Linked DNA regions of Homo sapiens. The protein of the gene in region 2 purifies or fractionates together with the protein of the main gene of each other region. This does not show direct contact. Each region holds a gene or a part of one and is shown on either strand. Other genes may lie near its edges. The genes, in order: TSPAN3, GPR141, CCNY and TTYH3.

Region 1 (7,025 bases), on a different chromosome or scaffold from region 2:
AATAGCAGTTAGTTTAATGTTGACCCAATCGTGATTGGTCCTCAAAAACAAATCTGCCTCAAGAAAGCTCACCTGTCTCTGTACATAATCAATAGCCCGGCTAGCAGCATCAGGGTTGGTTCCATTGTAGGTCTTATACACTTTCTGAATGCTGCGATCAACCTCATTTTCCACCTGAATCAGAACAAAGAATTCAGTCCCTCAAAAATACTAGTAAAAGTAACATTAGTCAAGGCTCCTACTAAAATACTTAAATGAAATGTTTGCAAGTTGCCAGATATCTATGAATTTCCTGTAAAGTTTTCTCCCTTCCTGCCTTCATCTTCATATAGATATAGATGAAGGCAGGAGGGAGAAAAGTGACAGGTAAAAATTCAGACATATACCACATACATTCAAGCATTCAAAGAGAAGATTGTGTGCAAAATGGCAGGCTAACAATGTATTCAAAAGGGAGAAAAGTTGAGGCTTGGGATAGATGTCCTAAATTATAAATGGATGCCTTCCTTTTACAAATAAGTTACTCATTTTCCTTTCCTAAAGGAGGTAAAACAAAGTAACTCTGAAGCTCCTGTAAGATACTTTTAGGACAAATGCCAACATTATTTCCATTTTATTTATTCAACGTTTAGAGTTGGCTAAATGTGCAAAAGTAATCGGCAGGTTTAAAAAAATCAGTCCTTAGAAATGGCACTTTATGAAAAAGCTACTGTTCAATGTATTGCAAAAAGGAGACAGGAAACAAGCTTCATAGCTTATTGCTGCCAATTACTAAAATGGCAAGCAAGTATCACTTAGTAAAGTTTGCTTGTACCAGATCCTCCTTACCCCTCGGAGGACTGGACTTATCTGGTAATTACAACAGTAATATCATAAGTCCATAAAATTGATAACCAGATCATAGGTAGGGACATAATCCATTGCATTTTTTTTTTAGCACAGCTTTACAGTACCTTACGTATCAATGATCTGAAAATTAACTTGGCATATTATGCCCTTGACTCAAAACCATTAAGTTATAATGAGAATGAGTCTATTATGTCTTTACCATGCCTCTAAAATTATACCCATATTAATTAATTTAAAGCAGCCTGTTTAGCCTTAAGTAGTACTACAGGTAGACAGCAAAATCAGGCAAAATAGAAAGGAAGGAACGGTGAAATGATTAAAAAGAATGAAGGGCAAGAAAGGAGTGCTGGCACCAGCTGCCTTGGTGTTCTAAGTTGGCAGGACCCCTTGTTCCTCAGGACAGGGGTGGAAGGTGGGATCACAACTCACAACACCTTTTTCTATGTTTAGGACCAAAGCATTTTTTAAAGAGACAATGGAAAACGCAATTCTGAGTTTGGTTCTTCTAAAGCAGAAATCAGAAAATTATGCCTCCCCTCATATAGGCAATCTGTGTGCTGAGGAAATCTGAACAAACTTCTCAGCTAATTATTCATTTGCAGCTATAAATACCTATAATCAAGAACAATACATATATAACACTCTGCTATATTAAATGAGGTAAGGAGTCTTGACATGTAAATATTTGCCAATTAACTTTAGATATTTGAAATACAGATTAAACAAGTAAGGCAAAAGAAAATGTTTACTCTGATAAAATGAATGTGTTCTATTTTACTTGAAACACTTAAACCACCTTTTAAGGCATTATGTGAATTACAGTAGACAACATACCTTTGCTCTGTAAACATATCCCAAAACCACTACAACAACTTCTGTGACAAAAACCAAGAGCAGGATGATGACAAACTGTAAGAAAACATGGTTTAAAATTATATACAAATGAAAAAATAACTTTAAATACACTCTTGATTTAAAAAAAGTTATCAGAGATAATTGCTAGAAGTTTAAATGTTAACTCTGTTCCAACTATAAGAGCCAAGGAGTCTCATGTTCAAGGAGAGTAGCATAGACTAAATACTCCTGCATGTTCTCACAACACATCTTACCGTGGCAAGTCCACAGCGACTTTCCCGGATTGTGGCACAGCAGCCAATTAGCCCAATGATGAAAAGCAGGGCTCCTACAGCTATGATCACTACAGCAGGGATGAGCGTGTACACATCTTCAAAGAAGTGGTCATAGTCATCATAAGTGATGAAGACATAGGCTCCCACATAGCATAAAATGCCAGCTGCCCCCTGTAGAAAACAAAGTCAGTACTGGTCTCTAAGCACTGCTGGTAAAAATTTCCTATTATTGCTTAGTATGGTATAATTTAATGAGAGTTACCGTAACTGTTATAGACTTTTTTCAGTAAAGCTGAAAATTCTATGATTCCTTGTTAAGAGCATTTCTATACTAGATAAAATTAAAAAGTTATCCACACTTCACCTACTTTTCACGAATTGATGGTTCAGCTAGGACCAAGAAACCATAACCAAATAATAACAATGATGATGACACACACCTACACATCCCTAAAGGCTTACTGTAGCTCAATTCCACATCCAATACGGATCAGTATGGTGGTAGGGGGATCTTTGCTCACTACAGTTGCCCTCAATAAGTGGGGAAATTTGGTAGAAATGACAGAGCTTGGATTTGAACTCAGGCAATCTGACTCCAGAATCTACACTTCTAATCTCTATCTACCCCACCTCAAGGAAAAGAAAATACACCAACTAGTAAGCATGATACCCACCCCACTTCCAAAAATCTTGCTGTCCTAGAGACAGTGAAATGGCAAAGCTAGAGGGCTCAGTCATTAAAGAACACTGCAAGTCCTCTATCAATTCTTTAGAATGGTGGTTCTCAAACTTTGAAGTGAATAGGAATTGCCTGAGGATCTGAATAACAAGCAGATTGATTCAGGAGGTCTGAGGAGGAGCCTGAGAGTCTGCATTTCTAACAAGTTCCCAGGTGATGCTGGTGCAGCTTCTTCTTGGAGCGCACTCTGAGTAACAAGGTATTAAAGACCTAAAGGGAAAGTGAACACACAAAGACAAGTGATAGGTGTGTCTTATTTCAGCTGCTGCTCCAGGCATCATTCTCCAGCTGCAGAGTCTTACTTTCTCCGCTATTGTCAATTTTGCTATCTTTGGGTACCAGCTCTGTGCTGACAGCCCAATGCCACTGGCTCATATACAAACAAGCAAATGCAGTGTCAGAGTAAGTGTTAAAACATTTGGTTATCACTTGGATAACAATGAGTTATCATTTGTAGAGTACTTTGAAACTTTCACAAGAAGTATTTCATCATCCTTTAAAATTTAACATATAAATCATCTTCAAACTAGAAACAGCTGCCACAGTGATACTGGAAATATCATTAACTTCTCTGAACCTGAAAACCCAGATCATTTAAGTTTATGAAATTCAGTAAGCTTGGGGATCATCAGTATATTTTTTTACACTAGGCCATTAGGATCACTGTCAGATGAGGAAGAAAAAGACTCCATTTATGTAAATTTGGGAAAGTAATTTGATTTTTTAAAATGTAACATGAACTTTTTAAAGTGAGAAGACAACTAGAATAATGAAGGCAATTTTTAAAAACATTGTTTTAAAACTCTCTTCCTCTGGCTTCCAAGAGGCCCCACTGCTGGTTTTCTTCCTACTTCCCCAGGTGCTCACTTTTTCATTCTCTTCACGGACTCTGAGATGTTAGTGATCTCCAGGATTCTGTCTTCGGCCTTATTCTTTAGTCATTCTCTGGGCTCTCCGTGGGCTACAGCAGCTATGGCTTCATTAGTCATTGTAGCTCACTACCTGAGCTATCATCTCAGAACTACACATTTCCATCTGCAAGTTCCAGAGACATGTCATCCTCAACCTGTCTCAAACCCTTTCTGCCTTCCTGCCCAGCCCATCTAATCTTCCCTTACATTCCTATCATAGCAAAAGGTACCAGACATCTAATTTTTCTGGTCAAACATCTGAGGATTAACTTTCCTTGCCCCACCTCTATAACCCATAAATCACAAAACTTCAACTTTACTTCCAAAACATTATTCGAATACCTCAACTCCTCTTCAACCCCACTGCAGTGCTTCTGTCTTAATTTGGGCCTTATCTTATCCCCCTAAATCTTACTTATTGACTCTCCCTGCATCTTAATACATTCTTTATACTACCAGGGTTATATTTATTAAAAATACAAACCAGATCAAGCCATAGCCTTACTTAAAATCAGGATGAGGCAAGTGAGTCCCCGATGAACCAAGCTATTCCTCCTTTTCAGCCCCAGATCTCATTACCCCTTGTGAACTATGAACAATATAGAACTGTTATACCCAAATGGACCACATATTCTCTCACTTCTTTGCCTCCGCTGTTCTCTCTAGAATGCTCTCTTCAAATGCCTGGGAACTCCTTGTCGCTCATTAAGATGAAGCTTAAATGTTACCTCTTCCTTTTGGAAGCCATTCTTGACCATTTCAGGCTGGATTAGCTGCCCTTGGTGGACACAAACATCTCCCAGTGCATGGTTCTAACAGAATATTTATCGAAACGGTTGCAATTATAGCTATACCTGTCTCAACACACCTTGAGAGCACGAATTGTACCCATCTGTCCTTCACCCTTGTATCATCTAGAACAGTACTTGGCAGACAGCAGGTATCAGTTAAAGTTTATTGAGTACACCTCATCTCACCCCTTTCCCTTGAAATCACCCTCCCAACTCTATCATAAGCTTTGGTTTGTATTTGCGTTGGTTTGTATTTGTATTTGGTTTGTATCTGGTTTCTCTTCAGTTCAATGCTTATAGCTTTTAGTTCACTATTCAATTATTTGGCAACTGAATCCAGCTTGCTGAATTCTGATGGCCATTACATCTGGAATATGTTAATATATCGTAAATATGTCATAAATATAAACACTGTACTTACAGCAAACTGCCTGTTCAAAGGTTCTCAGAGTTCACTGACATATTTGCTTTTGGGGCATGGTACTAGAGAATGAAGGTGAGCACAAAAGTGGGGGGGAGTGGAGAAGAGAAATAGTTTAATTTATCTTAATTTTATTTTATTTTATTTATTTTTTGAGACGGAGTCTCACTCAGTCGCCCAGGCTGGAGTGCAGTGGCGCAATCTCAGCTCACTGCAGGCTCCGTCTCCCAGGTTCACGCCATTCTCCTGCCTCAGCCTCCCGAGTAGCTGGGATTACAGGCGCCCGCCACTACACCTGGCTAATTTTTTGTATTTTTAGTGGAGACGGGGTTTCACCGTGTTAGCCAGGATGGTCTCGATGTCCTGACCTCGTGATCCGCCCGCCTCGGCCTCCCAAAGTGCTGGGATTACAGGCGTGAGCCATTGCGCCTGGCCAGACATAGCTTAATTTTAATTTGGGTGCATTTATTACAGAAGTATGTCAACTACTTAACACTCTTCCCAAATACCCCTTTTTATTGACTACTTGTGTGATATATATTCACACACATGTACACACACACATTTTGCTAAAGTAAATAGTATCAGTCCTCACGCTAAATTAGAAGCAATCTGAAGTGCAAATTAATCAAATTTTGTCATTTGTTTTTATTAGACGTTTCTCTATCCTTTAATGTTGTAGGTTTTTTTTACTCTAAAAGGCAGTATTTATTTCTTAAAAGGCTTGAGTTAAAATGAATTCCATTTCTGAGCTTTCGGTACACCTACTGAAACTTCACTAGCTTTAGCCTATGTAAATTCGAATGAAAATAAGAGAAAACTGGAGGCCATATGTACTTAACAATCAACCTGAAGCACAGTTCACTGAAGAACTACTTGCATTTTAGATATAAATTGATGAGTTTTCAATCTAAAGAGGTTCCTATGAGACTCACACTTAGTGCTGCTTGGAGGTGGGCCAAGGGAAATGTTTCCTCTGCTGCCACTGCCTCTCCCCCCTAAAAGAGGCACTCATCTGAAACTGAGACTACAAGAAAGCAGAAAAACCAGCAACAGAGACAACCAGATGCACAACAAATGCAATGGAGGGCTGTGGGGAGATGCCATTTGTAAAGCTGCCTCTTCTTTTCTGATAGACTCTACAACAGTTTTTTTTCCCAGGCTGCAGTCAACATCCAAGTCACACAACAAGATGAGAACATAACAAAGCTCTATTTGGCAACATATAGTTAAAGGAACTTACTAGTTGCACACACCAAAGAGAAAACTGCACGGATTGCTGATATGAAACTATACACATCAAATTGCTTATAAATAGACGATGTGTTTCCTAAATTGAAAACAGCTTCAAATTTTGCTTTTACTGAAATCTGTATATGGTGCTTATATCTTAAGCTGTATAATAAACAATTATGAAATGACACTGGTTACTTTGAAAATATAGAAGAGGTATCCCAGTAGCAGCTGAAGACCTAAAAACAGCCAAAAGTAATTGTTGTAATGATATCCAACCATCAATATGAAAAACACCCAAAAGAACATGGGAAACAGTATAGTAAATGGAAGAGAGGTTCTAAGAAATTCCTAACTAGTATGCATAGGGACTTTGTCATCCCTCAGATTTTTAATGCAGAAATTGTGGCTATCAGAAAAGCTATATAAAAGGTGAGCTTAAATTCTTCTTTTGAAGGGCCATGATGGGATTGAGATCTATCAAAGGATCTGAGCTTTGCCAATAAAGCAGCTGCAAAGGAGGGGGCTGGGGAGGAGGGAGGTGCAACAGAAAAGGAGATGAAATGTAGAACTTGGAAGCAGCTGAACTGCTTTAGTCACCACTGAGAAAATCTGAGCCTGTAAGGAGGATTTGTGCCAGGACAGTGTACTAAAAATATTCATCCTTTTTACAAAGAAGTGAAAGGAAATTTAGGCAAAAGGCTGAGGTCTGAAATTACAGAAAGAATAATTTTTAAAAAACCATTATTCTTTATCTTTTAATAAGCCTATACTCTAAATTAAGTCACAACATTTTAAAACTTTAGGAGAGCCAGTGCTTTTCCACTAAGCTGTCTAAAAAATAAAGCCATCTTGTTATAAAATTTTGCAAGTATATGAGTTCCAAAAGTATGATACTTCATTTTATGCTTTTACCCTTCCTCTACATATGCACAAATGTGAAATATCTTA
Region 2 (6,857 bases):
TTACCACCTTCAAGAAGATGCAAAGATTTTAGAACACTTGAATTCAATTTATATCTCTCCATGCTTTATCCCATTATTGTCAGGAATTTTGACTCTACCTATATTTCAAATCCTGTTAGGTGATTACTATTGTTATTGTAAATCTTTGATATGTACATAGGTTTACCCACACATTTGCTCTTTCTATTGCTCTTGGTTTCTTTGTGCAGTTCTGGCTCTCACCTGGGATTGCCTTTGCACTTTTGGAATCACTCCTTTTAGCATTTCCCTTAGTTCATGTTGGTGGGTTACAAATCATCATAGTTTCAGTTTGTCTGAAAATATTATTGTGTCATCAAGATGATGGATATTTTTATTGCATAAAGAACTCTAAATTAGCAGTTATTTTCTTTTACAATTTTGAAGATGTTGTTCCATTTCCTTTGGGTTCCATTGCTGTTGTTGAAAAGGCTGTCTTCAATCTTATTGTTGCACACTTAAAAGTTTTTGCCTCCGAACAGATTTTAAGTTTTGTTTTTGTTTTTTCTTTAGAGATGGAGGTCTCACTATGTTGCTTAGGCTGGTCTCAAACTCCTGGCTGAAAGCAATCCTATCATCTCAGCTTCTCGTGTAACATAATTTTAAAATTTCTTTCTTCATTTTTTTATTTCATATATTGGACCTTGGTAGAGTTTTTGTTGTTGTTTCTATTCTCTTTGGGATTCATAGTGCTTCTTGAGTCTATGTCTTTTTTTATTATGATTTTTTAAAAAATGTATTGCCCTTTAAAATATCGTTTCTTCCAAATTCTTCCTCTTGTTTCTTTCCAGAGCAACATTATAGGCATGTTAAAACTTTGCCCTATGTCTTTCATGACTTTTGTGTGATTTTATATAATTTTTATCTTTTTTTTGTTGCCATTATTCAATCTGGTATTTCTTTTTTTTCTTTTTCTTTTTTTTTTGAGACTGAGTTTTGCGCTTGTCACCCAGGCTGGAGTGCAATGGTGTGATCTTAGCTCATTGCAACCTCTACCTCCTGGGATCAAGCGATTCTCCTGCCTTGGCCTCCCTGGTAGCTGGGATTACAGGCACCCACCACTATGTCCAGCTAATTTTTGTATTTTTAGTAAAGACAGGGTTTCACCATGTTGGCCAGGCTGGTCTTGAACTCCTGACCTCAGGTGATCCACCTGCCTTGGCCTCCCAAAGTGCTGGGATTACAGGTGTGAGCCACCATGCCCAGCCCAATCTGCTACTTTCTACTGACCTATATTTCAATTCCATCATCCTCTGTGTCTAATCTTCTATTAGTCTTCATCAGTTAAGTAACTTTAGTTGTTTTATTTTTCAGTTTCAGAATTTCTATTTTATTAAAAAAATTCTCTAGTGTAAATTTTCTATATTTTGTGTACTCTCTTCAAACATTGATTACAGCTATTTTAAAACCAATCAATTCTGAATGCCCTTGTGCATTTGTTTCTATTTTCTGTTTATTTTCATGGTCTGTTTTTCTAGACTTATCTTCAGACATGGCTTTTAATAGTTATTGAAATTTGGACATTGTGTTTAAAAAGTTTGAGAGTCAATTCATTGATCTGGTTAGTGTTATCGTCCTCCAGAGAGTATTTACTTTTGCTTGATGTGTGTGAGGAGGTCGTTATGACGATGGCAAATCTCCTATCTATTCAGTGATTGTCTACCTAATTCAGCAATTTAGGTGATTTGAAATTGGGCTCCCACTTTGTGATGGTACAATATTTTTAGCACATGCTGTCTCCTAGGGTGTAGCCCTTCAGGGGTCCTAACTGAAAATTTGAGGTAATTATAAGGGCACCACCTCCTTGGTGGTCTCTGTTTGCTTCTTAAACTAGATTTCCTTAACTTCTGAGCATCTTAGCCACTGTATTTCACCTGTTTCTTCACCTCTCAGTGTCCAGTTTCAAATCAGCAGTGCCTTGAGTAAAAAGTACTCAGGAGTTGAAAATCAGATTCACTGATTTGTACTTCCTGTCTTCTGGGGATTTTATTTCTTCAAGGTGTCATTGCCTGGGCAGCTTTCTGAAGCCTTCAAACTTATAGGTTTTGCATTCTGTTCATTTTTGTAAGCTGCTCTCAGCAGGAGGGTTTGTCAGCAACAATCTTCTCTACAACTAATAAAGCTTGAAATATCTCTAGCATGAGTTATTTTGAAGCAGATAGCATTTTAACTCATATGGCAGAAAGAACGCACATCTGCTGAAATTGAAGAGTTTCCTGATGCAGAGGCCTTCTCTTCAAACTAAGAAACAAAGTTGGAAGCACTTAGAACATTATGTTTGGAGTAAGAAATGTGAATACTGATGAAAACAGAACTGCAAAAATTTCGCCTAAAATAATGAGTGTTTTAGCACTGTAAAGAATACCAGGAATCACCCCAAATTACCAAAGTTATCATTCTACTTAGGGACCTTAAAATAGAAAGAACCCAGGGCCAGTATCATTTTGATGCCTTTTAAAATTTCTTTTTGAAATAGTGAAATGTCACAATGGATTTTAAAAATAGGGGAATGTTGAAAATGTTGATATTTAATAAATTAGTACTTTTTAATTGACCAATTTCTATATAATATTAACATGCTGTCTACATCAGGAGTTCTCAACCCCTGGGCCACAGACCAGCAGTGGTTCGTGGCCTGTTAGGAACTGGGCTGTACAGAAGGAGCGGAGCAGTGCACGAGTGGGCCAGCAAAGTTTCGTCTATATTTACAGCTGCTCCCCATCACTTGCATTACTGCCTGAGCTCCACCTCCTGTTAGATCAGCAGCGGCATTAGATTCTCATGGGAGCATGAACCTTATTGTTGAATTGTCCATGCTAGGGATCTAGGTTGCAGTGTTCCTTATGAGAATCTAATGTCTGATGATCTATCATTGTCTTCCATCACCCCCAAATGGGACCATCTAGTTGCAGAAAAACAACCTCAGGGCTTCCACTGATTCTACATTATGATGAGTTGTATAATTATTTCATTATATATTATCATGTAATAACAATTGAAATAAAGTGCGCAATAAATGTAATGTGCTTGAATCATCCAGAAAACATCCCCACCCCTGTCTGTGGAAAAATTGTCTTCCATGAAACCTTTCCCTGGTGCCAAAAAAGGTTGGGGACCACCGATTTACATAATTAGAAAGTTTATAAAATCCTAATTTATAGAGTGGTCATCAAATGGTAGGAAAGTTCAAGCAGTTTGAGGAACTGATGTTTTTTTTTCTCAATACTTGCAGTGCATCTCTATGACTGTATGGGCAGCTTCTTCTGGAGATAATGTTGACAGTCTAAAAAGTTAAGCTGTGACGATTTACTCCCCTCCCCTGCCCCTATAGCACACTCTGATTTTAAATATTTTCTCTCTTAATTCTAATTAAATGACATAATTATAGTGCCATATCCCAGTCAATGCCATTTATCAGTGACAGCTAATTAACACAATTATAAAAGTGGGAGCCCTAAGTTACCAGTGAGGTATAGAGCAACTCTGGAAATTTTCTCCTTACTGAAAGGAAATATTACACATATTCCTTCACCAGAAGAACAATACACAGTTTACCTTCCCTTTTTGTTTTTGATAATACCACTTTGTTCCCCATTCTCTACAAAATTTAGTTTGAAGAACATTTTAAAAACTTGATTCATCGTAGTCATCAATCCTTCATAAATATTTCTTGACAATTGGCCTCTCTGTAGTTTGCAACCTGGACTACTCATGTTTAAGAGCTTGGTTTTTCAAGACTATTGTGTTTCAAATGGTTTTGAGGTTTTATGGTCTGTTGACATTCTGAGGAACTTAGAACACATTCACTTCCTTTTGCTTGGTGAGCTGTCCAGAGCCTTTGCAAATGCATGCAGAGCATGGAAATGACCCAGCTGCCCTGCTGTTGAAACAGAATCCTATTTGGAAGGCAGACATGTGGCCCATCTCTGTAGCCATCACTGAGAAATCTGGATTTTCAAGGTAAGTGCAGATGACTTAGGTTTGGGGAGACATGAATGAAAGTGCTATAGAAATAAAGCACACTTAATTTGTTGGCATAGTCCTAATTCAGAATCTTCAAATGGTTCTGCTCTAAAAAGCAAGCTTATTCTCTGACCACAACTCCTCCTTTATAGAAAGAATTGTTCTATTCTTACTGCTTAGGATATGCTGCTCTGAAAGTAAAACCTAATATTTATGGGTAAATGTGAACAAAAATGATTTCAGAATCTCTCTGTCAAAAAACCAGCTAAACATATCATAGAATTTTTTAGAGCAGTTGGCACTATTGAATTTGTGTATAATTATTCAAATGCTTATCTTTTAAGTGATGTCTTAATTTCCTTTTGTTATGAAAATCCTTTAACTCTATTACTGCATTATTTTCAGATAGAGTTTGAAACTATTCAGGCAGCCCTAGTCAATAGAAGGAAACAATCTGTAAGCAATCAAGTACTTAGAAATTTCTAAAAGAAGTATATTCAAAATAACATGTGAAATAATGGTAATTATAATTCTTTCCATCCCACTTTTAAAGTACTACTTAACAGGAAGGATCTGAAAATAACTTCTTAAATAAGATAAATAAAAAGAACAACATCTGTTCAAATAATTTTACTTTAAGTAAAATACTTTCTATACCAGTATTTTCTACTTCCAAGAAGTAATATTTTTCAAATATGTGGAATGAAATATAATGCAAAGTTTTTAAACAATAAGTCAGTAATGCCTAACCTGAATATAGGCATTTAATTTTGTTTCTTTTACAAATTTGTTATATGACTTTTGATAGGTCACTTAATTCTCTGGACTTCAGCGTTCTACATAACTGCACAATTACTTATCTGAGAAATTACTTATTAAGTACTCCAGAATTACATGTCTTTGTTTTCTGTTTTATTGGGTTTAAATCAGTTAATTAGGATTTTAATCAGTCAATAGAAGTAATGGGAAGACCAATGGATGAGGAATCAGGTGGTGTGAATTCTAGTCCTCTGTTTTCTAGTAATTGGCTGCATAATTTGGGGGAATATTGTCTAAGGATTCCAGACCAGGGGTTGGCAAACTTTTTCTACAAAAGCCTTGATAGTAAATATTTTAGGCTTTGCAAGCCAAGAGGTAGAACTGAGGCTAATATATTGGTACTTACATAACCATTTAAAACTATAAAAACCATTCGTAGCTCACAGGCTGTATAAAAACAAGAAGTGAGCCAGCTTTGGCTTAGGTGACACAATTTTCCAACTATTCTTCTAGCAATGATTTTCAACAATTATAAAATGGAAGTTGTAGACTGGATAAGAGATGCTCAGCTAAGGGAGTTCCTGGATGGTCTTTAGATTGATACACCAATCCTCTGAAATTGCATGCAAAAATGTAAGTGTGTGTTTTTCTTTTCTTCCTTTTGTGCGTGTGTGTGTTTCTCTCCCTCCCTCCTTCCTTCCTGCCTGCCTGCCTGCCTGCCTGCCTGCCTTCCTGCCTTCTTCCCTCCCTCCCTCCCTCCATCTCTCTCTCTCTTTCTCTCTTTCTTTCTTCAGGGCCTTTCTCTCTGTTGCCCAGGCTGGAGTTTAGCGACTCAATCATGGCTCACTGACTGCAGCATCGACCTCCGGGGCTCAAGTGATCCTTTCATCTCAGCCTCCTCAGTAGCTGAGACTACAGGTACTTGCCACCACACCTGGCTAATTAATTAATTTTTTTTTTTAAATAGAGACAGGGTCTTGCTCATGTTGCCCAGGTTAGTCTCAAACTCCTGGGCACAAGTGATCCTCCTGCCTTGGCTTTTCAGAGTACTGGGATAACAAACATGAGCCACTGTGCCTGGCAGCACTTTTTTTTTTTTTTTTTTTTTTTTAAATAAGAAAAACACGGATTGATTTTCAAAGTGGTCCAAAATCCAATTGTAGTTAAGGACCACAGGTCTAGCTAATTTCTAAAAGTGCTTTCCAAATTTAAAATCAATGAGCCTGTGAAATGTTTACTGGTGTCTACTATGGGTAAGCCATTGTGCTAGCACTATAAGAGACGTAGCATGTTGTGACTAAAATAATGTGTTAAATATATTGTTAAATAATATGTTAAAAAATATATTTTTGGGACAGGGCCTCGCTCTGTCTCCAAGGCAGGAGTGCAGTGGCACAATCACAGCTCACTGAAGCCTTCACCTCCTGGAATCAAGTGGTCCTCTCACTTCAGCCTTCCGAATAGCTGGGAGTGCAGGTGTGAGCCACCCTGCCTGCCTTTTTTTTTTTTTTTTTTCTTTAGAGAGGGGGTCTCACTATGTTGCCAAGGCTGGTCTCAAATCCCTGGGCTCAAGCAGTCTTCCTGACTCAGACTCAGACTAAAAATATTTTAAAGAAGTTAGAATATGTGCAAGTCTGTGCTGTCTTTCAAAGTAATAACATTGAAAACAATTTTCAATTGATCAAAGATTTCTGAGACATTGCTTTGCAAAGTGTTTTCAAAGCTAGTTCATACGTTATACCAAAGTATTTTCCAAATTATGTTATTGTCCCATCTTATTTTGAATGACAATGTTATTATTCGTGACAGTCATAATCAAACTTAATCTAAGCATAGTCTGTTTCCTAAAAACATAATTTCCTTAAGGGCAGGAACTATGCCTTTGCTACCTTTATATTTTAGAACAGGGTTTGACCCATAATAAGTACCCAGCATCTTTGGAATGGTTATATGAGTGAATAAGTGAATGAAATGATGAAGGTATTATCATGGAGATTACGTACCATAGATAGTGAAGGCTTGGAACTCCAGATGGTCTAAAAGCAGTAGTTGCTAAGTCCAAAGATGGCTTCTCTTTTCAAAATTGGATGTAACTGTGATTTCAAAATAATTGGCCA
Region 3 (7,598 bases), on a different chromosome or scaffold from region 2:
ACCTAACAATCAATATAACTCAGTTCAAATACATACAGATATAGATGAGCAAATACAGACATATAGATGTATATAGTGTGTATATATATACACTCTATTTAATTAAAACCTGTTCTCTTCTCTCAGCCTCTAATAATGAATTTCTACCAAAAATGTCCCTGAACGGCAGGTAACACTTCCAAGATTTGCCCAGCCAGCAATTCTCAGGCCTACCTGCATCTCAGAATCACCTTGGAGAGATTTAAACATATTAATGGCAATGTCCAGTACTAGATTTCTGGTTTAACTGAAACCAATGTTGAGAACTGCTGGCTGGGTCAATGCTAGAAGTATTATTTATTGAATTTGAGAGACAGAAGGTGAATTAATATTTCGGGGTTTAAACTAGCATAATCATATGAACTGGGATCTGGGATGAGAGGGCACTCCACAGCCTAGATTGGAAACCTGCCCTATACTCTCTCAAACTATCCTGAATCTGCAAAAGAGTCTTCCAAACATTCTCTCAAAAATTCCTGATGACTGAAACTTAAGATTTCTTTGAAATGAAAGAACACACAATATCATTTCACTGTACTCTGGCAAAATTGTACTGAGCCTTAGTGCCAAATACCTGGTTACACTTATTTTTTCCACCTTATTTCCTTACAATAGTCTATAATAACTGTATGCAGCCTGGCTCTAAGAAATGTAAATCTTCTTTTTTTTCTTTTTTGATCCATCATTCAAAACAAAGCCTCCGCTAGATACTGCACAACATAAAAAGGAAATTTACTGCACATCATAAAGAAGACATTATTTCCAAATGTTTTCGCCTGTCAACATAGTATAGGACTGGGTAATGGCTTTCTGTAATAAACTCATTCATTTATTCCTCCCTTTAAAGTACAATACTTACTGTTTATTATATGCTAGACTTTTCTTTCAGGTGCTAGAGGCTGTGAAAGTGATCAAGACCGATCTGGCCTTCATCCTTCTAGATGCCTTTAAATGCATAAATTTAAGAAGAAAGTATGGCTGTAGTTCAAAGACATCTAAGCGTATGTTTAAAATAATGGAAATCTAAAATAACAACACTAGACACGTCATATGGAACCATAATTTACTAAGCGCGTACTAGAAACCAGACGTTGTGTTACTCCCTTTATACATGGCACTCATTTAATAAAGATGCTCTCCTAAAAAGATTAAACTACCATTTAGAAGAAATTACACGAAGACAAACGAGAAAAATCTTTCCTTTAGCAAAGTTTAAATGTGGCCTTTCCACAGTGGAGAGAATCTTCCATCCTAAAGTGGACAGGAACGAATTATGAAGTTGTGTTCATTCATTCACACAAAAATTTCTTCATATTAGTTCAACCAGATTAACTATGAGAAGATGTTTGGGTTAAAAAAATCACCTTGTCATAAAAAGATACTTCCAATTTCAAATCTTTTCAGTTGAAAATTCTATAAACTATATTTTAAGCATGATGCATAAATATCCCTCTGTCGTTATCACTGAGCAACAGTGCTAATAAATATGTTGCCAAACCAATAAAATAAATAAAACATTACTGCGTGCAGTAATTAGTCTTAGCTTTTTTTCTTTTTGCAAACTCCAGACCAACCAAAAGTCACCTGAATAAATCAGAAATTCATAGGACTGCAATTCGGGCCCATGCAAAAACTGAGACTTAACCCAAAGGTGTCTGACAATCTTTTAAAGAGCATTCTCGGGAGAAGCTATTTGACTAATCCTGGAACCGCCACTCAAAAAAATCATTTTTTAAAAAAAACGGTAGAATGGGAACGGGGGAAGTGGAGTCCATTTGTAAGGTTCCGGGGAACTGACTCAACATGGTTCTCCAACTCGAGGTTGGAGACACCGGGATTCCAAAATGGGAATCCACTCACTTCGCTTTTATAGGACAAACGCGTGCACAACTTGGCTTCGGGCTGCATTCAGGTAGTGCCGGGAACCCCGAGCTCCCGGGCCGCCCCCACCCAGCTCTGGCCGCTCCATTAAGGACGAGGGCCGGCTCCTGTCACCTCGCGACCCACGCGCACACACCCGCCCTAGGCCCGCCGTGCTCGATGCCGCGGGCCTGCAAAGTTTCCGCGGCCGCTCACTTGGGGGTAACCAGCGAGGGGTACGCCCAGAGGCTGCGGGGCCCCGGGCGCCTAGGCTGCGCGGGCGAAGCCCCGGTTATGCACGGGTCGCCGAGACCGGCTGGGCAAGCAAGAGCAGCCGGGCCGCCCCGACGTTGGCTGTGCGACTGTTGCCGCGGGGGCGGGTAGGGGGCTCGGCGGGCCGCACTCACCGTCTATGTTCTCCCGGTCGCTGATGTGCTGCAGGTTGCAGCCCGTGTCCTCGCGGCTCAGGTCCGTGTCTGGCCGGTAGGACTCCAGCCGGGAGTGGGCATTCCTCCGGAGCTTGGGACTGGACGACACGCAGCACGAGGTAGTGTTCCCCATCTTCGGCGGCCCCCCGACTCCTGCTGCTATCCTGTTCTCCCAGTCCCCGGGAGCGGGGCGCGGGTGGACGCGGGGCGCGGGCGGCGGGGGCGTGTGGGGAGGCCCGCCCGCTCGCCGCCACGGGAGGGGGCGGAACGGCGGCCGGCCGCCGGGTCAGCAGCGGCGGCGGCGGCGGGGCCTCGCCATGGGCGGCGGCGGCGGCGGCGGCGACGAGCGGGCGACGGCCCCGGCTCCCCCTCGGCCGGCCTATCCGCGGCGGAGGAGCGCTCGGGTCCGCGCGACTGCGGCCGCCGCGCCTACCTCACCCCGCCGCGGCCATGGCGGGCGGCGCCGCGCAGGCCGCCTCCCCCCCGCGCTTCCCCAGTTGGTGTCCGCTTCCCCGGCGGCTGCGGCGACGGCGGCCGCCTCGGCAAGAGGTTCCGGTTCAAGCCGGGGGCACGCGTGTCCGCGCCGGACGGCGGGACTAGCCGACGAGCGGGCGGGCAGCGGGCGTGGGCGCAGCCCCCGGACTCCTCGCGGCGCGGTGCGGCGCGGCCAGGGAGGATGCTGGCGGCCCTCCCTCGCCAGCGGCGCCCGCCCTCGCCGCAGCCCCCGCCCCGCCCCGTCACCGCCCCTTCCCTCTGCCCTGGAAGCAGATCGGCGGCCGCGGGGAGGTTCGGGGCGGCGCAGCCCCGCGCGGTTGTGGGATCGCTCCCGGGGGCCGCTCCTCTCTCGGGCACTGGGGTCGCGGGAGACGTCGTCGGGAGCTCGGTTTCTGGAGGCCCTTCCCCACCCGGCCTCTGCCTCCTCCACTCCCCCGGGCTGGACGGAACGGGGCCCAGCGCGGGATGCGAGGTGCGTCCCCGGGGCCCGCAGCGGGCGGGAGCGCAGCCAGGGCCCGGTCGGGGACGCAGGCCCAGGGCGCTGAGGCTGCACCTGCCTCTCCGAAACCGGGCTGGCTCTTTTTGTCTTTTTATTTTTCTAATTTATTTTTTTAGAGGTATGATTTCGCTCTGTCGCCCAGGCTGGAGGGCAGTGGCGCAATCTCGGCTCACTGCAGCCTCGAACTCCTAGGCTGAAGCGATTCTCCCGCCTCAGCCTCCAAAGTAGCCGGTACTACAGGCGCGCGCCACCACGCCTGGCTAAGGTGTGTGTGTGTGTGTGTGTGTGTGTGTCTCCAAAGTAGCGAGGACTACGGGTGTGTGTGTGTGTGTGTGTCTCCAAAGTAGCGAGGACTACAGGCTCCCGCCACTACGCCAGGCTAAGGTAGGGTGTGTATGTGTGTTAACTTTTTGTAGAGATGGGATCTCCCTTTGTAACACGGGCGCCCGCCACTAAGCCAGGCTAAGGTGGTGAATGTGTGTGTGTGTGTGTGTTAACTTTTTGTAGAGATGGGATCTCGCTTCGTAACCCGGGCTGGTATCGAACTCCTGTCTTCAAGGAATCCTCCCGTCTGGACTCCTCCCATGGGATTACGGGCATGAGCCACGGCACCTGGCTATTTTTTTTTTCTAAGCATTTAAATAAGCTGGGGCTTGATTTGGGAGTTTTCTATTGTATTTTGAGCTTTGCCGAGGACTTGATAGTGACCTTGCTTTAAGCTGTGAAATAAATCTTGGGGTCCCAGAGCTATTTTAATATTGAATTCGCTGTGGAGTTGTTTTGAGTTCCTTGGAGGTTAACATGAGATAGAAAACTAAGTTAACACAACTCATCGACTGCCCTTGCTTTGCTTTGCTTTGCTTTTAGAATGCCATCGGGTTTTGTCATGTTGGGAACAAGTTAACTTAGGCCAGTTGACTAAGATCAAGGTATGTGAACATGCCTGGCTGGGAGAGAAGTAGAGTAAATGTTGGTTCGCATTCCCTCCCGACGCCCACAATGCCAGCCATCCCTGACTTTTCTTGCCTTTATTGGGAAGAATATAAGGTGGCAGAAACAAACTTCCCACCCTTTTTCCAAATATTTACTGAAGGAGTCTTGAGGAGAGTCTTGTGGGGTGGGGGGGTGGGGGTGGGAGCTGGGAATGTTTTTGAACTAGTTCTTGAAAAAAAAACTAGTACAATAGTACAACTGTCTTAATTTTATATATGAGGAAACTGAGGCCCAGAGATGAAATCATGCCTTGATTTATGCAGACCTCAGTACCTGTTCGTGACAAATCCAGTTACTAAAAGGTAAGAGAAGGAATAAGGGACTTGATATTTATCTAGCATCAGCAATGTGTGGACATCGTGTGAACGGCTTTATAAACATTTCATTTAATTCTCTACATCTAGCCATTTTTTAACCTGTGCTTTCCCTCCCTCTCAAAGTACTGTTTATACATTTATTAGTCCATATTTTAAACGCTCCATGCTCTCAACTGTATTAATGCTATTTGTTAGGATAAGTGGCAGATGTCCATGGAAAATAAGTGGCTGCAAAGTGGTAATGCTGACCAGATGAGAAAAGAAGTGTAAAAGGGAAGTTCTAAAGAATTAAAGCCCTGGAGAGGGTGGGTAGACAACAACAGTCCAAAATAGTGCTCTTCATTGAGGCTGTGTAGATTTTCCTGCTTCCTGGGAAAACTGGGGCATATTTACACTTGCATGTGTGTATTCAGATTGTCTGGGGCTATGGAGTTTGGGTCAGATTGCTGAACCCGTGGGAGAGAAGTTCCCTTGTTGTCTGTTGTTGTCTGTTCTGATTGCTGCTTTGTAATTTGGGCCACATATGAAAGTCAGCATCCAGTCATTGGACCATAGGTGTGTGGCATATCTACTCAGATGCATTAAGCTATTTTTATTTCATTATAAAATGTATAACATTTACATTCAAATTATGGTTTGAAGGGCTTAAGAGGAGAAAGAGACAGTGGCACTAAGGTGACAGCATGGCTGGCTGCATGCTTCCTGTCCAAGAAGGTCACTGGGCAGTGTTAACTGGGAAGAGCATCTGGAGGATGAGAGATCAGTGTAGCCACATACCCTTAACAAAGGGTGGTACAGCCTCTGGTCTGCCAGGATTTTTGTGCCCCGCCCCCCTCCCCCTCTTTCCCTATCTCCTCTTTGACATTTCCACCATATTCCCCTTAGGTATGTACCTGTTTGGACTTTAATTTAGAGTGTAACTTTTGGTCAAGAATCCTGGAGAGAAAAGACGGGTACTAAAGCCTCGCTAGTGATTTACCTGGGTGCCGACCCCCACAACTCATCCACCCTACATGCATACTTCAAACTCCTCCAGGCAGATACTCCCTGCCTGACACACAGTGACACTTTGGGAAAAATTGCAGAACAGTAACCAACTCTGAGCAGATAAATGTGATGTCAAAATGATAGTAATGAGAGATGTCGTTCGTTGAAAGCCTGCTAGCTGCCATGCACTATACTATTTCTTACATCTAAATCTGATTAAGTTATACCCCATTTTATAAATAGACACTTTGATAAGTAAACCTATCTAAGATCAAAATACTGAGAAATGTCCTAATTGGGGATTTGAACCTGGTTCTAATTCCAAAGTCCAAGCTACATCCACCCCAACCTCCTACCTCCTATCTCCAAGACTTTGTGAGTAAAAAAACAAGTGTCACTTCTCTCCTTCTCTTTTTTCTGTCCTAAAGGAAGCTGGGAGCTAACCACTTAGGACTAGTACTAATCTTTCAGAGAAAGGGATGAGGGGAGCCTTGTTATTTCTGTGGGGTTCAGCTCTCAGACCAGAGTAAGACAGGCAACAAGGTTGAGGAGTAGCCATATGCAGAAATAACCTGTGTATCTAGCCACAGGATCTCCAACACTGTGTCACTCGGGAATCAAAATACAGAGACAGTTCCTCAATAGAGTGTGGATCTAGCCCAGAATGTGGACAAGGGGAGTGGAGAAGGGGAGAGGTACACACTGAGCATTGTAACAAGGCCTGTCCTCAAGCTTGAGGAGGATTAGGAAGATGGCTTGAGTCTGGGAGTAGGAGGCTGCAGTGAGCTATGATTGTACCACTGTACCCCAGCCTAGGTGACAGAGTGAGACCCTGTCTCTTAAAAGAAAAAAAAAATTGACCTGGATCTACTCATACCCACCCTGGTCTTTGAGCAGAAAGAATCATTTGGGAATTATTTTGTCTCATCTTTCTCCATGATCACTGTTGAAGAATTTGGTCACTGTAACCAGGTAAATATAAAACTCAGGTGGGCCGGGCGCGGTGGTTCACACCTGTAATCCCAGCAGTTTGGGAGGCTGAGGTGAGTGGATCACGAGGTCAGGAGATCAAGACCATCCTGGCTAACACAGTGAAACCCTGTCTCTATTAAAAATACAAAAAATTAGCCAGGCGTGGTGGTGGGCGCCTATAGCTCCAGCTGCTCGGGAGGCTGAGGCAGGAGAATGGTGTGAACCCGGGAGGTGGAGGTTGCAGTGAGCCGAGATCGTGCCACTGCACTCCAGCCTGGGTGACAGAGCAAGACTCCGTCTCAAAAAAAACTCAGATGAACTATAGCTAAGTCAGTGCTCTTGACACTTTTTTAGCAATAGTAGCTTTGTTTCTCACAGAAAAAACAAAATTTTCTGTGGAACCACACTATTTAAAACATAAGCAATATTAGTATCAACTTGTATAATTTATAGATCTACTGATAAAAACAATCAAGAATAGTCTACCTTAATTGAATCAGGAGGAGATAACTGCAGTCTTACATCAGCCATACTCGTATCCATGAAATATGAGTCAGTCATTTGCACAACTCCCTGAGTCACCTTCTGGAACACAGAAAACACTGAGCCAAGTTAGCCCAGGACCTGAACCTTTTGTGGAAAGGAAAATCTGTAGTGTCTCCTCAGAGTATGGCTGCCCTTTCACCTGGTAGTCAGTTTCTCATGACGGTTACTCGAGCATTTATAAGGCAGTTGTGAAATAACCAAGACATTCTGTGTGTTGTGCTACTGATGCTCCTCCTGTCACCGACCTCCTCTCCAAATGAGGCCTGCCTTTTGTCCTTGGTAGTAGGCAGTCCACAGTGTAACCAGCTACAGGGGAAGTATTTACTTTGATAGCCACTTGACCTTGATCAAGTCAGGTGACTCATTTCTGGATAACATTTTTGAGAGTATACTGAGCCAGGCACCTTGAGGATACGAAAGTGGATTATAGTTTCCATTCTGGAGAAACTCACAGTCCAGTAA
Region 4 (7,025 bases), about 35 Mb from region 2:
GTGTGGGGCCTGCACTGGGGTGTGTTTTGGGGATCTGAACTGGGATATGGGGGACTCGTGGTGGGGGCACCTGCAGTGGGGTATGCACAGGAGGCCTGTGTATCTGGATCAAAGGGAGCCAGATGTGGGTGAGGTGAGGCCTCAGATGAGGGAGAGGCCAGTGCCGTAGCAAGAGCTCTGAGTCCCCAGTTGCTGAGCGAGGGTTCAGCACAGGAGGGCTTGATCTAGCTGACGTTATCAGGCCCCTTGGGCTGCTACGTGGGCGGCGGGATGCGGGGACCCACGTGAAAGTGGACACTGTTGCCTGTTCAGGAGAGGGACCTGGGGGACAGGAGGGGCGGGGCCCCAAGAGCCACGTGGCCCTCCAGTCCTGCTTCCAGCTCAGATCTCTGAGCCCCACCCCACCTAGGAGAGGGATCCATCTGGGCCCTGGGCTGTGGGCAGCTCTGGCTGAGGCCAGGCCACAGGAAGAGCCCCAGCCCATGTGTGGGCTGACCCCTGATGTGCACTGGGACCTGCCTTCTGGCCTGCAGCCCAGCAGGTGGCACGGCCCCCACCCTGGCCTGGGGGCTGCTGACTGGCTGTCTCTGCCCCAGGGTCTGCCTGCTGGGAGTCCTGGCCCTGGTCATCAGCTGGGGCGCGCTGGGCTTGGAGCTGGCTGTGTCCGTGGTGAGTGGCAGAGGGGGTGAGGTCCCCGGCTGCTGGACCTGGGCACTGGGGGAGGGACGAGGGGAAGCCACACTCCTCTCCCCTCCCATCTTCCCGGGCACTGGGTCCCGAGAGCGGTGGGGACCCACCATGGGCACAGTCCACCTGTAACCCCAGATTCACAGTCCACCCTCCTGAGTTGAAAGCAGACTCCAGGGGACGGGTTCTACCCCCGAGAGCTTCCCTTTAGGCCCAGCTTGGTCAACCCCTCTTGCTTGCCCACGCCCACCTCAGGGCTCCAGCGACTTCTGTGTGGACCCTGACGCCTACGTGACCAAAATGGTGGAGGAGTACTCGGTGCTGAGTGGGGGTGAGTCTGTGTCCACGGCCGTGTCCCAGCGGGTTCCCCAGGGTTGGGCTGAGCCAAAAGAGTGGGGTAGCTGAGGCCGAGACACCCCTGCCCTGTGGGTCCATGGTCTCAGGGAGACAGGTCCCAGGCCAAGATGCTAGTGAGCAAACAGGACCACCTTTCCCAAGTGGGAGGCTCTGCAAAGAATGACAGGAACTATGTGGGGTGGCGGGTGCCCGCGTGGCAGGGGGAGCGGCAGGTGACCCAGGGCTGCTTCGAGTAGATGCCCAGGGGAGGCCAAATGGGTGGCATTAAAGTACAGCCAGAGGTCTGGGTGCAGTGGCTCACACCTGTAATCCTAGCACTTTGGGAGGCCGAGGCGGGTGGATCACCTGAGGTCAGGAGTTCAAGAGCAGTCTGGCCAACATAGCAAAACCCTGTCTCTACTAAAAATACACAAATGAGCTGGGTGTGGTCGTGGGTGCCTGTAATCCCAGCTACTCCGGAGACTGAGGCACGAGAATTGCCTGAACCCAGGAGGTGGAGGTTGCAATGAGCCGAGATCGCACCACTGCATTCCAGCCTGGGCAACAAGAGTGAAACTCCATCTCAAAAAAAAAAAGTAGAGCCAGAAGGACGCTGCATCTCTTCTAAGAGCCCCGAGGCAGGAGGCAGACCCGAGGGGAGAATGGAGGGTGGGAGGCCAGTGGGGCTGAGTCTCTGTGGCAAGCTTCGCTTTATTCCAGGGGGAGGCCATTGGAGGGAGGGAGGCAGGGGAGAGATTTGACCCATGATTGAAGGTCCCTTTCAAAGCTTCCTCAGGCCTCAAGGGTTACAAGAGTGGGTGAGGAGGATACCTCAAGCAGGAGACAGCAGGGGCTTGAATAAATGGAGCAAAAGGTGGACAGGGATGGGCTTTGAGGGCGGAGCTGGCAGGACTTCCCGGTCAGTTGGATGTAGGGAGCGAGAGGGACGGAGCAGGAGTTGGCGTCCCTGGTTTCAGCAGCTCTGTGCTGCGGGACCATAAGCTGTACTGTGGGTGGGGGAGCAGGTCTGGAGGTGGGGGGCAGGGAGCTGGGGCATCGGGAGTTTCGGCCCCCTCGGGAGGTTTGCGATGTGTGTCGGACGGCACAGAGGCAGGTGGACGTGGGAATCTGGAGATCGGGGTGCCGTCAGTGTGTTAAGCTTCTCAGGCCCCCCTTGTGGAATTATTGTGTGTTCCCCAATAGGAAATAGAAGGCCTGTCCCTGTGGGGGTGAGGGTTACTGAATGACCTTGAAGGTGACCATCCTGCCACCCTTTGTCCCTGGAGGCCACAGGATTGGCTTGTGGGCTGGTTTTTTACCTGCCTTTGTTGAAGGAACCACTTCCACCAAAGCCTGAAGAGCCTCCTGGAGGAAAAGTCATCTGCCGCCCACTGACCTTGTCCTCGGGGGCGAGGGTGGAGGGGTGGGCCCGCTCTGCTAGGGGCGGGGAGGGCTGGTGACCGCTCAGTGCTACCCACCACTGTCCTTGGCCCCGGTGCTATCATCCTGGTCCCTCCAGGTCCCTACTGTAGCCGGCGGCCTTTGGGGGGATCTCATCAAGTATGAGCAGCGCCCCCTACACGTGTACATGTACACACGTAAGTGTGAGCTCCAGCCTGCGGGCCAGACAGCCCCTCCCAGAAGGCAGCAAGGCCAGCCACGCTGGCTTCACTGCACAGGCGGCCACAGTGATGCCTGGTGCTCTCCTATGTTGTTAAATACTTTCATCATTTTTTGAACTTTTAAAATGTTTTTTTTTAATGTTCTTTTATAATTGGAAGAACTGAACTTGTAAAGAGTTCGGAAGGTGGAACCCAGGCAAGGGGCAGTGTGTGGGGACTCTGGCTTGATGGGAGCCCAGACCCCACTGCCACACACACAGACATAGGCATGTGTGTAAATGCATGCAGACACACATGCGAAGACATGTACACACAGACATGCACACATATAAACACACAGACACATGCACACCGGCACACGTGCACACGAAACGTGCACAGAGACACATGCACGTGTAAGTAAACATGCAGACACATGCACATGTGTAAACAGGTGCACACAGACACACATGCACACATGTAAACATGCACGCAGATGCCCTGAAGATATGCGTGCAGACACAGGCAGACGTGCACGCAGTCTCACAGGGACAGCTGTTGCAGCTCAGCCTTCCCTGATGTCTCTCCGCAGACATCCTGCAGTACTACCTGGCCTGCTCGCCCCGCGCCGCCAACCCCTTCCAGCAGGTGAGAGCCTGGGAGGCCGGGACTGGGCTTCAGGAGAGTCTGAAGCACATTGCTGTGTGTGGAGGGGCCCAGCAGGCCTGGCGCCTGGCTCCTCAGCCTGCAGGACTGGGGAACTGGGGGAGGGAGCTGGACAAAGGCTGTGTGGATGTCACCAACAGCCCCTGGGGTTACCATGCCGGTGACCTGGTGACCTGGCTGAGAGCCTTTCGGGGGGACCTGCTCAATGCACCCGCATCGCTGGGACTGCTTTTGCTCCTTGGATTGGCCTTGGTGGGGGAAGGAGGAGCCCCAGGGATGCCTCTGTAGGGTAACCGTGTTCAGGCGTCCTGGTGGGGGAGTTTGAAGAGGTCGGCCGCACCAGCTGGTCAAGCCCTGTACACACTGCCTGTCATTGTACCGGTAGCATGTGACCCTTTGAATCCTGAGGGCCGTGTGACTGTGCTTTGCTTGCTGGTGTGGGTGCGTGGTTGGCTGTTACCACCTCAGGGCTCTGTGGTCTCTGGGTGTGTCCCGGGGGAAGCAAGGGCAGGGAGTGCCCTGTTGGCCTGCAGAGCAGAGCCTTGATGGTCTCCCAGGCTGGACGTCTTGCTGGTGTCCCCGCGTTGGAGGGTCCTGGGGAGGGAGAGGCGGGCGGACCCAGCAGCGCCCATGGACTTGGTCTCCTCTCTGGAGCAGAAGCTGTCGGGCAGCCACAAGGCACTGGTGGAGATGCAGGATGTCGTGGCTGAGCTTCTGAGGACCGTCCCCTGGGAGCAGCCGGCCACTAAGGTGAGGGGCTGCGGGGTAGGCACTGGGGCAGGCAGGGCTCCTCTTTTCTCAGCATGAAAGGAATTTGTGGTGCAAACACAGCTCAGGGCAAATTTGGAGAAGGCACCAGGCTGGCCGAGTGGGGACCTGGTGTTGGAGGTGGCATGGGAGGTGTTCCTCTTCCCTCCCCCAGCCCTTTCCGCGTTAGGCCTCATTTTTTCCTCCCCTTCCTCCCTCCTTCATTCCTTTCCCTTGGGAATTTTTGGTAGGTTTTAAAAATCATTTCTTTTGAGATGGGCTCTTGCTATGTTGCCCAGGTGGGTCTCAGGGCTGGGATGACAGACGTGAACCACCACACCCAACGTTTAAAAAATAACTTTATTCTTTGTTTAAAAATAATACAAGCTCTTTATATTTAAAAAAATTGAAGAAAATGGAAAGAGATGAGGGAAGAGAGTAACAGAATCAGATCCATTCTCTGGGTGAGTGCCCTGGGGGCATTGTGGAAATTTGAGAGGATTCTTGTTTTTCCCTGTAGTGTTCTGGGCCCGGGCATTTCTACATTACAATATGTTAAAAAAATAAAATAAAGGCCTGGCGCGGTGGCTCACGCCTGTAATCCCAGCACTTTGGGAGGCCGAGGTGGGTGAATCACTTGAGCCCAGGAATTCAATACCAGCCTGGCCAACATGGTGAAACACCATTTCTACTAAAAATACATAAATTAGCTGGGCGTGGTGGTACACGCCTGTAATCCCAGCTACTTCAGAGGCTGAGGCAGGAGAATCACTTGAACCTGGGAGGCAGAGATTGCGGTGAGCGGAGATCACGCCACTGCACTCCAGCCTGGGCAACAGAGCGAGACTCCATCTCAAAGAATAAAATAAAAATAAAAAATAAATACGTTGCTATACTCTTGATAAAACCCAAATCTCTTTGGAGGTGTTTGGTCCACCCGTGGGGATCCCTGCCCCCACACACACCGCCCCAGGACTGGACATGAAGAGGGAGGAGTGCGTCTGTGGGCACAAGTGTGGGTCTCAGACTCCATTTGGGAGCAGCTGGCCCTTCTCCAAGGAGCTCTTCACAAAGATAAAAGCAAACAAATGTGTATACACACACGGGGCCGGGCACGGCACTCATGCCTGTCATCTCAGCACTCTGGGGGGCTGAGGCAAGGGGATCACTTGAGCCCACGAGTTCAAGACCATCCTGGGCAACATAGCAAGACCCCATTCTACAAAAAAATACAAAAACTAGCTAGGTGTGGCAAAGCATGCCTGCAATCCCAGCTGCACAGGAGGCTGAGGCAGGAGGATTGCTTGAGCCCGGGAGTTCAAAGCTGCAGTGAGCTGTGATGGCACCAGTTCACCCCAGCCTGGGCAACAGAGCAAGACCCTGTCTCTCTCTCTCTTTCTCTCTGTATGTATGTGTATATATATATAACATATATACACACACATAAAAAAAAATTAAAAATAAAAATTATACACACACACACACAATTGCTTTGATTTAAAGTTACTTTTTAGAATTTCTGTTACAGCTAGAGCTCCCTCTTGGCGTTTTTGCACTCGAGTGGGTAGGGAAGTGGATTCGTTTCCTGGGACCCCCATAGCACAGCAGCCCAGATGGGGCAGCCTCCGCAGCAAACGTTTATCATCTCACAGCTCTTGGCAGGGCCGGCTTCTTCCAAGGCCTCCCTTTTGCTTGTAGACGCTGTCTTCTCCCACTGTCTTCACAGGACCATCCCTCTGTGGGTGTCTGTGTCTTGATCTCCTCTTCTTTTTTATTTTTATTTATTTATTTTTTTGAGACAGAGTCTCTCTCTGTTGCCCAGGCTGGAGTGCAGTGGCGCAATCTCGGCTCACCGCAACCTCTGCCTTCTGGGTTCCAGCGATTCTCCTGCTGAGTAGCTGGGATTACAGGCGCCTGCAGCGCACCCAGCTCATTTTCCTCTTCTTATAAGGACACCCGTCCCATGGGGCTAGGACCCACCCATGTGACCTTGGTTTACCTTCAACACCTCTTTAAAGGCTGTGTCTCCAAGTGCAGCCCCTTTCTGAGGTCCTGGGGGTTCAGACCGCAACACAGGAATTCTGGAGGCACCATTGAGCCCGTAACAGTAGGCTCTGTTATCCCGAAATCCATTTCTTTTTTTTTGGTGTTGTTTTTGAGATAGGGTCTTACTCTCTTGCCGAGGCTGGAGTGCAGTGGTGTGATCTCAACTCACGGCAAACTTCGCCTCCCGGCTGAAGCGATTCTTCTGCCTCAGCCTCCTGAGTAGCTGGGACTACAGGCGCGTGCCACCACGCCTGGCTAATTTTTGTATTTTTAGTAGAGACAGGGTTTCACCATGTTGCCCAGGCTGGTCTCCAACTCTTGGCCTCAAGTGATCCACCCACCTTGGCCTCCCAAAGCGCTGGGATTACAGGGGTGAGCCACCGCTCCCGGCCCCAAAATCCATTTCAGGATTGTAGTGGGTCCTTAGAAAACGTGCCGTAAAAGGCAGCAATGGGCCCAGTCACTGCTCCTGTGGAGTCGCTGTCAGCCTGGCAGTGTTTCTGTGCAGCCGTTTCTCCAGGCATGAGACAGAGCTGGTGGTGTCCGTGCACAGGTGCACACGCATGCACACACGTAAGCACCGGTGAGCACACGGACACATTACAGGACTGCGCTCACTCTGCATGGAGAGTTTTGTCAGTCAGTATGAGACTCTTCCCTTGTCTTTAGCTGTTCCTTGAAATAATACTTTCAAAAGCAGAGCAGGTCCGTGTCAGTAGACACGTGGGGGTTCGCTGTTTCTCCCATTACAATAAAGGGAGGTCTGTCTTCACGTAGTGGCGACCACACTGGACAGGCGCTTCTGGGTCCTCATGTCCTTGGTAGACCCCACGGGTCTGAGGAGGGGCCTGGGGTCACCATTTCTCAAGGCCCAGAGTCCTTGTCCTCAGGACCTGCACTGAGACCCCAGGGTGGGGGGTATCTCAGTCGAAGATTATGGGC

What was found.
Region 1: the proteins of GPR141 (region 2) and TSPAN3 purify together in Homo sapiens (affinity purification with mass spectrometry; 2 studies listed by BioGRID and IntAct, with this or other methods). This does not show direct contact.
Region 3: the proteins of GPR141 (region 2) and CCNY purify together in Homo sapiens (affinity purification with mass spectrometry; 2 studies listed by BioGRID and IntAct, with this or other methods). This does not show direct contact.
Region 4: the proteins of GPR141 (region 2) and TTYH3 purify together in Homo sapiens (affinity purification with mass spectrometry; 2 studies listed by BioGRID and IntAct, with this or other methods). This does not show direct contact.

What each region holds. Positions count from the first base shown.
Region 1 is NC_000015.10:77,054,106-77,061,130, forward strand, and holds part of TSPAN3 (tetraspanin-3), read right to left. Parts: intron 2,151-7,025; coding exon 1,959-2,150; intron 1,759-1,958; coding exon 1,684-1,758; intron 175-1,683; coding exon 73-174; intron 1-72. UniProt on the Homo sapiens protein: Regulates the proliferation and migration of oligodendrocytes, a process essential for normal myelination and repair.
Region 2 is NC_000007.14:37,679,926-37,686,782, forward strand, and holds the start of GPR141 (probable G-protein coupled receptor 141), read left to right. Parts: upstream 1-3,840; 5' UTR 3,841-3,978; intron 3,979-5,253; exon of another isoform or gene 5,254-5,325; coding exon of another isoform or gene 5,326-5,373; intron 5,374-5,534; coding exon of another isoform or gene 5,535-5,658; intron 5,659-6,857. UniProt on the Homo sapiens protein: Orphan receptor.
Region 3 is NC_000010.11:35,331,916-35,339,513, reverse strand, and holds the start of CCNY (cyclin-Y), read right to left. Parts: upstream 3,006-7,598; 5' UTR 2,461-3,005; coding exon 2,307-2,460; intron 1-2,306. UniProt on the Homo sapiens protein: Positive regulatory subunit of the cyclin-dependent kinases CDK14/PFTK1 and CDK16.
Region 4 is NC_000007.14:2,648,971-2,655,995, forward strand, and holds part of TTYH3 (protein tweety homolog 3), read left to right. Parts: intron 1-596; coding exon 597-669; intron 670-942; coding exon 943-1,018; intron 1,019-3,216; coding exon 3,217-3,272; intron 3,273-3,947; coding exon 3,948-4,040; intron 4,041-7,025. UniProt on the Homo sapiens protein: Calcium-independent, swelling-dependent volume-regulated anion channel (VRAC-swell) which plays a pivotal role in the process of regulatory volume decrease (RVD) in the brain through the efflux of anions like chloride and organic osmolytes like glutamate.